Linked DNA regions of Homo sapiens. Each later gene encodes a partner of the first gene's protein in a complex. Each region holds a gene or a part of one and is shown on either strand. Other genes may lie near its edges.

What was found. Proteins that work in one complex are often made in the same cells at the same time.
Region 2: the proteins of RAB14 (region 1) and RAB11FIP1 are in contact, whole or in part, in a crystal structure (PDB 4D0G), measured with the Homo sapiens proteins. Residues at the interface, in NP_057406.2 of Homo sapiens: Leu28, His29, Ile44, Gly45, Val46, Glu47, Phe48, Gly49, Trp65, Arg72, Arg74, Ala75, Val76, Ser79, Tyr80; in NP_001002814.2 of Homo sapiens: Glu1252, Ile1255, Asp1256, Asn1257, Leu1259, Val1260, Met1263, Pro1267, Asn1268, Leu1270, Arg1271, Ile1272.

Annotation. Positions count from the first base shown.
Region 1 is NC_000009.12:121,198,865-121,206,719, forward strand, and holds the start of RAB14 (ras-related protein Rab-14), read right to left. Parts: upstream 3,006-7,855; 5' UTR 2,775-3,005; intron 2,737-2,774; exon of another isoform or gene 2,619-2,736; intron 1-2,618.
Region 2 is NC_000008.11:37,896,496-37,904,229, reverse strand, and holds the start of RAB11FIP1 (rab11 family-interacting protein 1), read left to right. Parts: upstream 1-4,732; 5' UTR 4,733-4,788; coding exon 4,789-5,159; intron 5,160-7,734. UniProt on the Homo sapiens protein: A Rab11 effector protein involved in the endosomal recycling process. Also involved in controlling membrane trafficking along the phagocytic pathway and in phagocytosis. Interaction with RAB14 may function in the process of neurite formation.

The sequences.
Region 1 (7,855 bases):
TTAATCTAATAATCTAATCTAATAAAAATGAGTGGTCAATTTCCTCAACAGTAGTACAAGTAGCCCACCCACTTAAAAAAAAAACCTTACTTTTGACAATATACTTAATGTCACTTTTATATAAATAATGTGAATCATTTTTAAAAGCTGGATTGCTTAATGTGGCAAAAGTAACTTTGATGGTCTTCTATATACAGGAAATAAAGTATTCTAATACTGGACCTCTGTTTACAGAAAGAAAGCACTTAACAACCAAAAAGCCAAAAAAAACCCCTGCACTTACTGCTCAAGTTAAAAGGATTAATAGTGAAAATTTTACTACCGATATTGTGTCTGAGATTTGCTTCAAAATAATTTGGCAAGGAGGAGGCAAGTGTATATTGATGAAGCAAGACTGATCACTGTTGACACTGGCTGATAGGTATATGAATGCTCAGTATGCTACCTGATTTTGTATATATTTAAAATTGTCTAGAATAAGAAGCTTTTTAAAAGTCAAGTACAGTACCTCTAATACTTCTATTTGTCAAACTGTTGTCTTTAGCCATGCCTGGCATTTTTTACCACATAAAAATGTTTCAAGCCTCTTTTAAAAAACATGAAACATCTCTCAATAGCCCAAGTTTTCACATTTTATTTACCTTAATCAAGTTTCCTCCACTAGCACAATATCTTACTGTGACTATGCAAAGATATTTGATATTGATAAAAATGAACACTCCAAATTCTGTTGCAAAGTTGAAGTATGCAACAATGATAAAGTTTAACTGTAATACAAAAAAAGCAACAACTTTTTAAGATGTAGCTTTAATTTCAAGGGATTTTTTAATAGCTATTATAATCTAAGGTTTTACGTCTTTACAATAACTGCCATTTATTGAGGGCCTAACACATGCCAGCTACTTTATAAACAGTCTCTAATCCTAAAAACTCATTTTTCAGATAAGGAAACCGAAGTGATCTACCCGTGGTCATACTACTACTAAATGGAGAGCTAGAATTAAGGCCCAGGTTTAACTCTACATGTAGCTCTCCAAAGCTATACTCCTCTCTCATTCATTCAAAAGATATTAAACACCCACTATGTGCCTGGCACTGTTACAGGCACTGATTTACTATATGCCAAGCAATGTGCTAAGGGCTTTCTTTAAACCCCATTTAATCCTAGCAACAACTCTAAGATGCAGGTCCAATTATCCCCTTTATAGATAAGGACACTGAGTCCGAAAGGTTAAGTAACTTGCTTAAGATCACTTAACTAGGAAGTGGCAGTACTGGAGGGAGAACCCTTGACAGTATGACTCCAAAACTCTTAACCACGACATACCTCTAGGCATGATCAAATAAAACTGCCTAAACAGAACTTGGAAGAAAAAATTTGGAAAGGCTTGGGGGAATAAAGGGGTAGGAGCTGGATTACTGCAAGGTCAAGTTTGTCTTCAACAATCAAATCTAAATAAAAGGCAGTTGTTCCTCTACAATATTTACCTTAGAAAAATAAAAGAATTTTTTAAAGGCAGTTGGGATAGTAACGAAATGAGCAGTAAACTTTGCAAGAGTTCAAATCTGGGCTCTGACACTTGCTGTGGGGTCACCAGGAAGGCACCTGTCCTCTTGGAACCCGTTTCTTCTTCATATATGAAACTGAAATCCTGGCATCTCTCCTTTGGGGTTTGTAAGCATGAGGATTTGCCAGTGTAGTGGTTGACTTTATGGACTTTAGGTCATAAAAGGGTAATCAGCTGTCATCCAATGCGAACACAGTAAAAAAGGAATAAAGTTGTAACTACATTATAAATGGTCATGTCTGTAACCCTAGCCTAATTTTTGAATGTAGTACAGAAACCACCAGCCACAGTGTGAGCCGAAGCCAGTTTGTAATGTACCATCAACAGCCAGACACACATCACAACTTTAGGCCTCAGTTTCCTCACTTATGAAGTGGAGACAACTTATCTCCGAGGGCTACGCGGGGCAAGATAAATAGGTACAAAAATACATAAATATGTACCTGGCCCACAGTTAAAACGCTTAAAACACTCCAGCTCTGTCGTCTTCTCTTAGATTCTAGAAATGCCACAACTTTCTCTTATTTCTAGATGCTCTGTAGGTTCAGGGCCGTAGAGGCTGTCCACGGGCCTCACAGGAACGCACCAAAACCAGGACATCGCAAGCACAGGCGCACAGACCCAGACCCCGGCCCCGGCCCGGCCCGGCTGCAGGGCCGGGCTCCCCACATCGACAAGGACACCGGAGCTGCCCCGAGACGCCAAGAGGGCTGCGAAGAGCTGCCTTTGTACTCAGAGCCAGACGCGGCCTACGGGACGGGACCGCCACGTCTGGGGCTTGCGGGCTGCAGGGCGGCGCGGCACGCGTGGGTACACCCTGCGGGGGCGGGCTGCGGCCGCGGGGAACAGCGGCGAGAGGGGGGCCCGCGGGAGATGCGGTCCTGCCCAGCCGCGCCGAGAAGGCGGGGAAGGCGAGGCCGGAACACACCCTTCCCTGCACGCCTCGGAGCGCCCCGCCGGTTGGGGAGGGCAGGAGGCTCAGGCCGGAGCCGCGCAGGGGACACCTCCGCCCCCGCCCAGGAGTCCTGTCAGGCCGGCGCCGCGGCGCTCACCGCCGACCCACGGGCTAGCCACGGCCTGACGGGGCCTGGCCCCGGGGCGCCGCCCGCCTGCGGCCCAGTCTCCACCGTCCCCACACACGCCCCTCTGAAGAACCCGGCGCGAGGAGGTATCAGCCGGCCGGACACTACGGAAGGCCCGGGTTACCTGGGGGGTTGCTGGTGGCTGGGCAGCTTTCCGGGCGGGAGGGGGGCGTCAGGACCAGGAACAGGAGTGCGGACGCAGCGGGAGAGGGGGCGGGGGCGGTCGACCGAGGCGCCGGCAGGTACACTGGCAGGCCGAGAGGTGCAGACGCGCCGGCAGCAGTAGCGGCAGTAGCAGTGGCAGCGGTGACTGCTCCTGTGCTCCCTCAGTATCTTCCTCGGGCTGGTCCAAGATGGCGGCGCTCCCTGCACAGGGTTTCCTGTCACCCTCGCAATGGGCCGGACCACAAAAGAAGGGGGAGAAGATGCGCGCGCAGCTGGCGGAGCCCGGAAGAGGGTGGCTGAGGCCAGCCCGCTAGCCACGCCCCTTCCTCAGCCCTCACCTCTGGACTTGTCGCGCCGCCGCTGAGGCCCGCCCCACGGGCGCTCGCGCCCGGAGGGAAGGTGGAAAGCGCGTATGCGCAAGCGCAGTCGCGTGTCCTCGCCTCTTGGGGGAGCTACTGCGCAGGTCTGCGTGGAACCTGGTGGGGTGCGCCTGCGTCTTGGAGAACTAGGGTTGTCGCTCGTGGAGACTTTTGAACAATTTTTAAAGCCAACATTTACCACTTATTGGACGCTTACCGTATACTGGCCACCATGCTAAGCATGCATTTACTGCATTCATTCAACGTGTATTTATGGGGGCATTTACTGTATATACCGCTGTATGCTTCGTATATACCGGTCCTGTCCAACAAACGTCGGAGGCACGCATCCCCATTGTATCCATGGAGAAACTGAGGCTCAGGTTGGTCAACTCTCTTGTCCAAGATCACGCAGCTAGGAAGTGACCCTGCATTTCATCTCTATTTTGACTTCACTTTGGGGTTGCCTTTGACAGGGTGAGAGAAATGTGATATTTTTCACAATTTGTCTACCACCTGCCATCTTCCAACTTGCTCTGCCATAATCACTGCCCCAGAAGGTTTCGTGCTTTTCGGGTGCAGGGACACGTTTTGACTTTCTTGGACCCTGAGCACTTTTGCCTTGTGGCTTGTACATTACACACACACATATATTTCACACACATGTAAGTTAAATATATGTATAAATATTTAACATATTTTACAACTGCATTGATATAAACATGACGTATCAATATTATATAACAAAATATTTTCTCTGACCTGAAAGTTCATTTTTTTCTTCTGACTTTAAAAGAATGTAAGCCGGCCGGGCGCGGTGGCTCACGCCTGTAATCCCAGCACTTTGGGAGGCCACGACGGGCGGATCACGAGGTCAGGAGATCGAGACCATCTTGGCTAACACGGTGAAACCCCGTCTCTACTAAAAATACAAAAAAATTAGCCGGGCGTGGTGGCGGGCGCCTGTAGTCCCAGCTACTCGGGAGGCTGAGGCAAGAGAACGGCGTGAACCCGGGAGGCGGAGCTTGCAGTGAGCCGAGATCGCGCCACTGCGCTCCAGCCTGGGCAACAGAGCGAGACTGTCTCAAAAAAAAAAAAAAAAGGAACGTAAGCAAGGAGGGCTGGTAGTCTGCGCCTGTAATCCTAGCTACTGGGGAGGCTGAGGAGAGAGGATCGCTTGAGCCCAGGAGTTCTGGGCTGTAGTGCACTGTGTCACTAGATAGAGTGTCTGCACTTAAGTTCAGGAGGGAGGGACCACCCAGGTTGCCTAAGGAGGGATGAACCGGCCCAGGTCGGAGATGGAGCAGGTCAAAACTCCCGTGCTGATCAGTAATGGGATCATACCTGTGAACAGCCACTGCACTCCAGCCTGGGCAACATGGGGAGACCCTGTCTCTAAAATAAATAAATATTCATTTTTGTTGGCCCCTAAAAGTATTGGAGGCCCTAAGCCCTGTGCATACTGTACTGTGCCTAATGGATAAGGTGGCCCTGCCTTAGTTCCCCACCCCCAAATTAAATCAATCTTTCTCTTAGCGTTCAGGACCTTTTATGAACTGGTTCTGCCATGAACAAGTGAGATTTCACTGTAAAAGTGTGTGCCAGTTTGTACATCTCATATTTTCAGAGACCTGGGTTCGAATTCCTGCTCTATAATCTAATGGTATGCAGTTGTGCATGTCACTTGATTTCTGAGATTGTCAGTCTTTTCTGCAATATGAAAATAGTAATATCTCTCTCAAATAGGTCTTTGTGAAAATTAAATGGGATAGTATATGCAAAATATCTGGTATATAATAAGAAATGGAAATGATTATTACATGATAATCTAATCTAAGGTGATATTGAAATCCTTTTGCAACCCTAGAGGTCTAGGCTTCTATTTCCACATTCTTTAATAAGTATAGTTTGTTGTCACACTTTAACATTTTTGAAACTAAGAAATTTGCCTGTGCCAAGTAAAGGAGAAAACTGTGAACCAATGATCATTAATTGCCCAGGTATGAACTTAGACCTGGCTAGTAAGTTTCCTTATAGCCATTATCACCTGAAGGGAGATCTTTATGTATAGCTGATGTTTATTCAACACTTACTATGTACCAGCAACTGTCCTAAGAATCATGCATATTTTCTCATTTAATCCTTACCACATCCGCATGAAGTCAGTACTATATTTACCCCATTTTATGAATGAAAAAACTGAGTGTCATACAGATCTAAAGTCGTTTAGGTGAAAATTGGGTGGGACTTAAATCTGGCAACATGTGACCTCAGGGCTGTACTAAGCCCTATTCCATTTCCTCCCTTATTTGCTCTTGTTTCACAATAGCCAGCTTAAATGCAGGTCCCTAACTGCTGCTTTCCTATGTGAAAGACATTACACTTTGATGCAGCTTTGAACAGAAACACTCTTGTGGATGCAGAGTGCCTATCACATGCTAAGGAATGCAATTAAAAAACAGTAGGAATGGTCAATTCTTTTAATAAGTCCCAGAATTTTCAAAGTGAGGAGAGTGTATGTGACCAGTTGCAGCATAATTAAGAGGGACTGTCCATTGGGTGCCAAACATCCATTGGGGTTTCTACTTAACTTTTTTAAAAAGTTGTTTCTATAAGAAGAGATGTATACATGGAATAGTCACTGCAGCACTGTTTGTAATAACAAAAAACTAGAGACAAACTAAATGTCTATCACTAGAAAGCTGTAATAGTAAATTATAGTACATCTATATTGTGAAATACTATGCAGCCATCAAAAAGAATGAGGCCCATGTATATGTCCTGATATGGAACAATGTCTAGGAAATACTTGGAGGGAAAAAAGCAAGGTGCAGAAAACTAAATAGTATGCCAACATTTGTTAAACTATAAGAGGAGGGCAAAGAAGACATGTATGTTTATGTAACTAGACATTGAGAGGGGTTTATTCCATGTATACATCTCTTCCTATTGTCCTGGATCTGTTGCTGAAGCCCAAACTTGAAAATAAAAAGCCCACAAGGAGCTCACATTCTACACTGAAAAAACTGCCAGTGGCTGGGGCCAGCTACCTTCTAGCAGGGAATTTGAAGAGCAGTTGTTGAAGAAGTCAGCTCTTGACCAACTTCTACCTCCACTCCACTACTCCCTCACCTATTCCCCATTTCCAACCCCATCCCCACAGACACACCATCACCAGTAATCTGTGGAAAGAAAGATTGGAGACATGGGAGGGAAGTCAGCCTTTAGGGAAATTGTAATGTCATGGAAAGAGACGCCTTCTTTCTGTCCCCTCATGGAGACTGTGTCCTCATCTAGAACCAAAGGAGAGGGGCTCCAAAAGAATCACCAGTGAGGATTGGGTGTGCCTGCAGGAAGATGGGACTGACAACTCCCTGGATATCTATCTGTTTGGGCAGCACTGATCTGCTCTGCCCTATTGCTTCCTGCACAAAGGAGAACACAGATGGAGAGAGACAGCACTGGAGGGGCTTTGGATGGTGTGGGGAGAACCTTAGATGAAGAGGGGCTGAAGTTGCTTCCCCTTATCCCTTCCTCCCACCTTGACTTTCTAGTCCCAGATTGGAGTACGGCAAAGAAGTGTCCATCAGAGAGGAGTGTGGCATAATGACACAAGCTAACCATCTGCTGGAAGATATAGCAAATGTGTGAGGGGTCACCTGTTCCTGGGAAGATGCCTGGAATCCTCCAGGTGTGCAGGTTGTTTGTCACCTGCTCTGGCTTCATTTCTGCTTGTATTTTTATAAATTGTTTTGTAAAAAGTAGATGTTATTTTATCCTTCATCTCTTCCCAGAGCCTAAACAATTAAAGTCATTTTCAGATCTCTCTGTTGTGTTTATTTAAACAAAATTAATTCATCTCCTCATTATAGGCTTAATTTTATTTGTTCATTTTCCTCTTATGCTTGTGAATTTTGGTTCATAGGCTTATCTTGAATTGGAGATTCCCCCCTACCCCTATGCTTGAATCTTTTTTGTTTAGTGGTTTTGGAGTTGCCACCGAGCCACACTCAGACTTTAAAATACTGGTGTCCCAATTCCTGAAGCAGTATTGAAGATTTAGAAGAACTAATACAATTTGTACTCTAAATTTTATTACCACATGTGTGTTCTACCTAATTTAAAAAACGAATATATTTTAATGTAGTTGATTAACTTCCAGTGATACATAATTTAATTAAAAAGAAATGGTCAAAAAAGCTAGTTTAACCAAAAAAAGTTGAGATCAGGTGCGGTCATGGTGGTATGGCTGTCGACATTAACCAAAACAGAAACAGCAATTAATATACTTCAAAATTTAGTAGGTTGACAAAGAAATCAAAATCAAGGGCATGAGACTCATTCGTCTCTGGGTATGAAAAAGGATTAGATTCAACTTATCACACTAAAAAAAGGTGATGCATAAATGTAACAATAAGTACATTCTGTATTCAATTGTAAAAGAAATTGTGTGTCCATTGAAATAGTGCCCTTTCATCTCCCCATACACCTTATACCACCCCCTCCCAAAAAATATCCTCTCGTGTCACAGCTTATGAGGGCATGACATTAATGAGGTAAAAAGCAAGCTTGAAATTTTCCCAGGAAAGCACCCTACCGGAGACTCATTTATTGTCATTGAAGCATTCCTTTGGCTGACGACCAGAAGTTGGTGGTTTCGACTTAAGAGGCCATGTTACAT
Region 2 (7,734 bases), on another chromosome or scaffold:
TCTCACCTGTCCAGTCTAACCTGCCAGGCTTGTCCATGTGCTCAGGGTTGATTGAAACTCTTCCTCTTTCAGTCCAAGCTGGAGGCAGGGCAGGATGGGAGGAAGGAGCAGCCTTCCTGTTCTGCCGCACCCTGGCTGCGGGAGGTATTTACAAACACTCCTGGAACTCAGTGACCCTGCGCGGGTTCAGCCGGCCAGCATAGCCTGGCCTTTGGGAGTGGGGAGGAGCGGCCACGGTGGAGTCTTCCCAGGGCCAGTGGGGAGCCAGGGGCCTGCAGGGTGCCTGCCTTGTCACTGCCCTTGTTGTTGTCCCTGTGCATCCCCCAGCCTGGATTCTGGGTCTGGAAAATTGGGAGAAGACAGAGGGTGACTCCTGGGCAGAGTCATGGGAACAACGTGCTCTGGGCTGGTGGAGGGGAAAAAACAGCCACCAAACAGCTGGAGGCAGCAAGGCACACCTGGTGCTGGGGCTCCGGCCTCTTCCTTCTCTGAAAAATTTCCAGTTCCTGCCTTGGGAAGCCCCCACTCCTTTGAGCTAACCCCTGCCAGTGGTCAGTGTCTGATGAGAGTGGTCTGGATTTCTCCTGGGTGGTGAGGCAGCTGTGCCTGCCTCCAAACTACCACATCTGCTTTCACCAAAGTCTATTTGTGTCTCACAGAAACTCAAACACATGAGGTCACAGGTACTTCCCCACCCTCTTTGTCCTCTAATCCTTTCCATGGGTGGAAGATATGCTTTGTTTCATACTCAGCTGGGGAGGCTGTCCAGCTAGGTTTTATGCCTTGTTTTCTTTATTGGGGGAGCAGCACTAAAAATGTGAGTGTTGGAGAGGAGGGGGAACTAGAGCTGAAAAACTTCCTCCCAGGCTGAGTTGTTTGTTTGTTTGTTTGTTTTTAAAGACAGGGTCCCACTCTGTTGCTGAGGCTGGAGTGCAGTGGTGCAATCATAGCTCACTGCAGCCTCGAACTCCTGGGCTCCAGCAATCCTCCCACCTCAGCCTCCCTAGTAGCTGGGACTACAGGTGGACGCCACCACACTCAGCTAATTTTTGAAGTTTGTTTTATAGAGACAGAATCTCAGTATGTTGCCCAGGCTGGTCTTGAACTCCTGGGCTCAAGTGATCCTCTAGCCTTGGCCTCTCGAAGTGTTGGGATTACAGGTGTGAGACGCTGTGCCCCACCTCCCCAGGTCAGTTTTGAACTGAAATCTATGACTTTGTCCAGCTGGCGTGTAGTAGAACATTGGACAGGTAGGATAATCAAGAGGAAAGTGTATACCCTCTTATTTAATTCAGTACCAACTTAGAAGAGACTCCAAGATGGGGAAGAGGTAGGCAGATTGGGGCAGAAGGCAGACAATCCCCAGGTGAAAATGAATGAAGGCATCTAGCTGTGACCTGCCTGCCAAGCTGTTGGCTGCTGGACTCCTTCTTCTCATACCTCCCTTGCAATTTGAGAACAGCCTAAGCAGGTCACTGCTCAAAGTTCTCTGAAGGCTGGCTCCCCTGGTCTCAGCCTGGTGTTCTCTGAAGGCTGGCTCCTTAGCCTGGTGTTCATGGTCTGAGCGCAGCCTGTCTTATTTCTGTCTTATTTCTACCACTCATTCTCAGTGGCCTCCTAAAGCATCCTACATTCCAGCCACAATGGGGTATGTGAAACCTGGAAACGCCACGACTCTCTGGTCCCCATATCTTTGCGTAGGCTGTTCTCCTCTTCTCTCCTGAAATGCTCTTCTCATATGTCTCCTCCTGTTTCTGTCAAATCTGATATATCCTTCAGGGCCCAGCTGAGCCCCTCCTACTTCACAAAAATCCACCAACTTACAGAAATCGCTCTCTCCTCAAAACACCCAAAGCATCACAGTAATCAGGACTTCCTTTAGATGATGCTGGAGTGCCTTGGAACTGAGTCTCATTCAGCTTTGTGCACTTGGTAGCACCCGGCACATGCCTGGCACAAAGTAAATGCTCAACAAATCGTAACAGGGTCTCGGTCTATTGCCCAGGCTGGAGTGCAGTGACATAATCATAGCTCACTGTAGCTTCAAACTCCTGGGCTCCAGTAATCCACTCACCTTAGCCTCCTGAGTAGCTGGGACTATAGGTGCGCACTACCATGCCTGGCTAATTATTGGTTTTATTTTTTATCTTTTTGTAGTAACGAGATCTTGCTGTGTTGCCCAGGCTGGTCTTGAAGTCCTGGCTTCAAGTGATCCTCCCACCTCAGCCTCCCAAAGCACTGGGGTTACAGGTATGAGTCACTGCATCTGGCCTCAAGAAGCCTTTATGGAAATTAACTGAGTCATAATGTTGAATGAGTATAATGGATCATCCAGAAGGGAAAATGGCACCAAAACAACACAGTTCTGTTAGGCTTTCTTGCCCCTTCTATGCCTGCTGGCTTCTTTCCCCCACTCCTCCCATCATCGTTACATATTTCCAACATGGCCAGGTGCAGTGGCTCACACCTGTAATCCCAGCACCTTGGGAGGCCGAGGTGGGCAGATCACTTGAGGTCAGGAGTTCAAGACCAGCCTGGCCAACATGGTGAAACCCCATTTCTACTAAAAATACAAAAATTAGCGGGCATGGTGTCGTACATCTGTAATCCTAGCTACTTGGGAGGCTGAGGTACAAGAATCGCTTGAACTTGGGAGGCAGAGGTTGCAGTGAGCTAAGATTGCGCCATTGCACTCCAGCCTGGGAGACAGAGCAAGACTCTGTCTCCAAAAAGAAAAAAAAAAAAGAAAAAAAATATTTCCAACATACTAAACAGGCCTTTCTCACACTGCAGCTGCCCTCAGTTGCAAACCTGAGGCATACCTCTGTCTTCTAATTTCCTACGTGGTAAAAGGAAACACTTGGTCCTCATGGTTGGCCAACTTAACCTGCAAACTCTTGAGTTCAGTAGCACTTCCCGGGTACCTACTGTGCACCCAGGTTTGTGCTGGAGGCTGTGAAGGAGACAAGTTGAATAAGTCACTACCTGGTCCCTGCCCTCAGCAGGGCATAGGAAGTCAAACCTTGGAGAAATATGAGTGAACCCTTGCAGTGGGAGGTTGGCAAAGACAGTCAAGGGTACAACGTAAAGGCCTGGAAGTAAAAAGTGTCTGGGCTACAGGTTTGTTTGTTCGGGAGATAGAGGAGAATGAGGTAGGGTGGGGTCAAAATGGAGTACCTTGAAATCTCTGTTCAGTCCGAAGGTAACGCGGTTGCTGGTGAGGCAGCCAGCAGGTTAGTGAAGCAATGTGCAGTGTGAACCAGAGGGAGGAGAGCCTGGAGATTGGAGGGACACGAGTAGCCATCCAAGATTGGGGTTCTGTGGATCTGGAAGAATCAAGAGATGCACTGAACAGCTGTTTGGGAGTCAGGACACTGGGATCCCAGTCCCAGCTCTGCAGAGGGACCTTGGACATGTCACTCCTCTCTTCTGAGTCTTTCCTTAACTGTAAAACTTTAAAACCTTCCAAGTGACCTTTCCAATCTGATGACTCGTTAAACAGTTGAGCCTTTGAACTAGGACCTGTGAAATGAAGGGAAGCAGCCGATCTATTAGGCATTTGGAACAAGAAAGGGACTGCCTGGGAGCCCAGGGATAGAGGCAGGGAGAGACTAAAGAGGGCCTGGCAAGGGAGAAATGGGGAACTGCGGGCTGGGGGCCTGCCACTGTCCCGATGTTTGATTTGGCAATCCCATTTTCAGTTCCTCCTTTCTTCCCTTTTTCTAACTCAGCCTCGCCTTATCTGGTGGGGGGAGGGCAAAATAGGACACTCCCACATTGAACTCATGCTCCCCAGGATACCTTCCCCTTTTCCGGCCCTCACAAGGTCCTCACCTTCCTCTGCAGCTGCCTTCCTCCAGAGCAAGGCTTTCCAGCGGGAGAAGTAGAAAGCACAGTGAATTGGGTGGGCATCTTCCTTAGCACCCTCATAGTTACCAACTTTATTTTTTTGAGACAGGGTCTTGCTCTGTTGCCCAGGCTGGGAGTGCAGTGGCACGATCTCGGCTCACTGCACCTCGACCTCCTGGGCTCCAGAGATCCTCCAGACTCAGCCTCCCAAGTAGCGGGGACCACAGGCGCTTGCCACCACTCCTATCTAATTATTTTTAATTTTTTTTGTAGAGACGGGGATCTGGCTATGTTGCCCAGGCTGGTCTCGAACTCCTGGGCTCAGGAGATCCTCCTGTCTCAGCCTCCCAACGTGCTGGTCATGGTTATTTACTGAGAACTCACCATGAGCCAGGCACTGGGCCAAGAACTGTAATGCATTATTATTATTATTTTTTACAGCAATCCTAGGAGGTGATTGTCAGGTGAAGAAATTGAGACTTGATGTTAGGTAATCCGCGCAAGGCCACGACTGGCGATGTGACCCTGGAAATGAGGTCTGACTTCCAAGTCAGTGCTTCGGCCAGCTCCTTCCCGCCGTGCGACCTTTGGCAGCTGGGGACCCCATCCGTCACCTACCACCTCTCAGATTAGATTCTCGATGCGCCCGCCCCTGCGCACGTGATCCCCTGCCTGCCTGGCCGCGCCAGCCCCGCCTCCGGCGCCCGGGTGCCCGGAGCTGCCCGCGCTGCTGAGGCCGGCGGGGCGGGGCGGGGCGGGGCGGGGCGCGGCGCAGCAGGTGGAGCAGGCGGCTCGGGCAGGGGCGTGGCCTTGGCCATGAGGGGCGTGGCCTGGCGGGGGTGTGGCCGGAAGCCTTAAAGTGGCCTGGTCGCCGGGGCGGGCCGTGGAGGCCGCCAGTCGCGGCGATCTTCTCCTCGCTTCTGGAGTGTTATCGTCACCATGTCCCTAATGGTCTCGGCTGGCCGGGGCCTGGGGGCCGTGTGGTCCCCAACCCACGTGCAGGTGACGGTGCTGCAGGCGCGGGGCCTGCGGGCCAAGGGCCCCGGGGGCACGAGCGACGCGTACGCGGTGATCCAGGTGGGCAAGGAGAAGTACGCCACCTCCGTGTCGGAGCGCAGCCTGGGCGCGCCCGTGTGGCGCGAGGAGGCCACCTTCGAGCTGCCATCGCTGCTGTCCTCCGGACCCGCGGCCGCCGCCACCCTGCAGCTCACCGTGCTGCACCGCGCGCTGCTCGGCCTCGACAAGTTCCTGGGCCGCGCCGAGGTGGACCTGCGGGATCTGCACCGCGACCAGGGCCGCAGGAAGACGCAGTGAGTGCGGGCGGGGAGGGGAGGGCCCGGCCTGGGGGCGCGGACCCCTCCGGCAGGGCGGTCTGGGCGCTGGACCCTTCGAGAGTAAGCCGGGCAGCAGCGGGGAAGGCCTTTCGGGACGGAGCCCTCGGCCGGTGCTGGTGTTCTCACCTGGCTTCCCCTTCTGCGGCTGTCCCGCCCAGCTCTGCCAGCTTTGGGTCTTCTTGGAAGAAGGGGCCGTATCTGGGGCGCTTTTTTTTTTTTTTTTTTTAGACAGAGTCTCTGTCGCCCGGGCTGGAGTGCAATGGCAATGGCACGATCTCAGCTCACTGCAAACTTCGCCTCGCAGGTTCACGTGATTCTCCTGCCTCAGCCTCCCGAGTAGCTGGGATTACAGGCGCGCACCACCACGCCCGGCTAATTTTTTTTTTTTTTTTTTTGAGACTGAGTCTCACTCTGTCGCCAGGCTGCAGTGCAGTGGCACGATCTCGGCTCACTGCAACCTCCGCCTCCTGGGTTCAAGCGATTCTCCTGCCTGAGCCTCCCGAGTAGCTGGGACTACAGGCGTGCGCCACCACGCCCGGCTAATTTTTGTATTTTTAGTAGAGACGGGGTTTCATCAGATTGGCCAGGATGGTCTTGAACTATTGACCTCGTGATCCACCCACCTCGGCCTCCCAAAGTGCTGGGATTACACGCGTGAGCCACCGCGCCCGGCCCGCCCGGCTAATTTTTGTATTTTTAGTAGAGACGGGGTTTCACCGTGTTGGCCAGGCTGGTCTCGAATTTCTGACTTCAGGTGATCCGCCCACCTCGGCCTCCCAAAGTATTGGGATTACAGGCGTGAGCCACCGCGCCGGGCCTGGGGCGCTTTTGAATCTGCAGGACGCCCCTCAGCGTCTGGCACACAGTAAGCACTAAGTGAATTTTAGATGAATTCCAACTATACGTGGGCAGGTGCCTTCTTCTTACTAGGGTGGTAGCCCGTGTCTGATACTCGCCTTCGCTTGGGTGGAAGGCCTCCTGGGTATTTCACTGAATAGAAGAACACTTCGAGCCGAGAATGACTGGGCCAGGGCGCAGGGCAGAGGAACAGGAGGCATGAAACCAGCTGACACCCCCACCCTAAAGGCTAACCCCGGGCGCAACGCCTTTACAATGCGGGGTGGGTGGAGGTTGGGGGAGGGGAATGGCGTTTGCCGGCTGTCACATGACTTGCTAACCCCTTCCCCTACCTCATACTTGCCTAGGGGGTTGGTGAAGAGAATTTGCCCCTACAGAAAGAATGTTACAACAGTGTGGTGTGTGCCCTGGGCCCCATGTTAGTAAAGATTTCTCCAGGTTGGAAGGAGCCCGGGTGGGCCCTTGACGGAGCAGAACTGGGCATTGTTTCCTTTTGGAGTTGGTAGAGTTCTTCTCTCTGGTCCTAATCCTGGTGGATGTCTGCTCGCCTGTAGCTCCCAAAGATTGTGTCAGGTTATTTCACTTCTGCAGTAAAAACTGGGCAAAAACCATTCACTCCATGATATTACCGAATTATTTGTTTCACAGGTGTTCGGAAAGGGCAGTGCTTCACCCAAAGGAACGTTCGATTATGTTCATCTAGTATGCCAAAGCTAGCCTCGATTAGCTTAGCTGGTTACTTTGTTAGATCTTAAATACACAGGCCAGTCAGTTAGCACCGAAAGCCTATAGTCTAGGAATCACACTGATTTGCTTTGTGTGTTTTAGATATACATAGCCTTTTAACTTTCCCTTCTGTGGGAGACAGGAAAAGCCAGAGGGTTTGTCCTCTGGAGGCTCCCTTTACTGTGGGGTGGGTTCCATTTCAGCATGTAGGCTTGCAAATGGAATATTTGATGATGCAAACTTACCTGGCCAGAGATGAATAGGCATTTCTGAACTCACATCAGATAAAACTAGCCTTGATGTGAGGATGGATGGGGTATCTCACAGCATCAATTTACAAGCCATAAGGTGAGCAGTGTTTTTGCTAAGGAGGGGCTGCAGCAATGCTGATCTTCCATCTGATTAAATGACACTGGGGGTGGTGGGTTGGCTTCCCTTCAGCTTCAAATGGGTGCTGTTGGCCATCCGTTGTCTTGCGCCATCCCAACATGTGTGTATTCACTTCCTTCTCTGCCACCTGTTTCTTATGTGGACATTTTATCCCCTTGAGAGGTAGATCACATCTCCCTGCCAGAGATGGAGATTCCAGAGTCCTGGGTCCAGTGCCCACAGCAGCCCTGACTCATTGTTGGGCTTCTCTGTCCCTAAACACCCAAGTTTCTCTATTTGTAAATAGAGCATGTTGCCAGACTTAATTGATGTTTGTAAGATGTTTCTGGGTTCCTGGATTAATGGGGCCAATGTATCCAAGAAGTGATTGAAAAGGTTGGCAACTGCTTTGTGAGAGATTGAAACCTTGAGCTCTCTTTTTTTCAGGAAGAGTTCAGTCTCTGCATCTTCATTTTTCTTATTTTATCCAATGTAACCCTAAACCTATACAATAACTCCCACCTATTATGTGAACCGATTACCACCTAGTCACAGTATTGACTTCCAGGAAAATGGTGCTTAGTTGATTTTTTTTTCT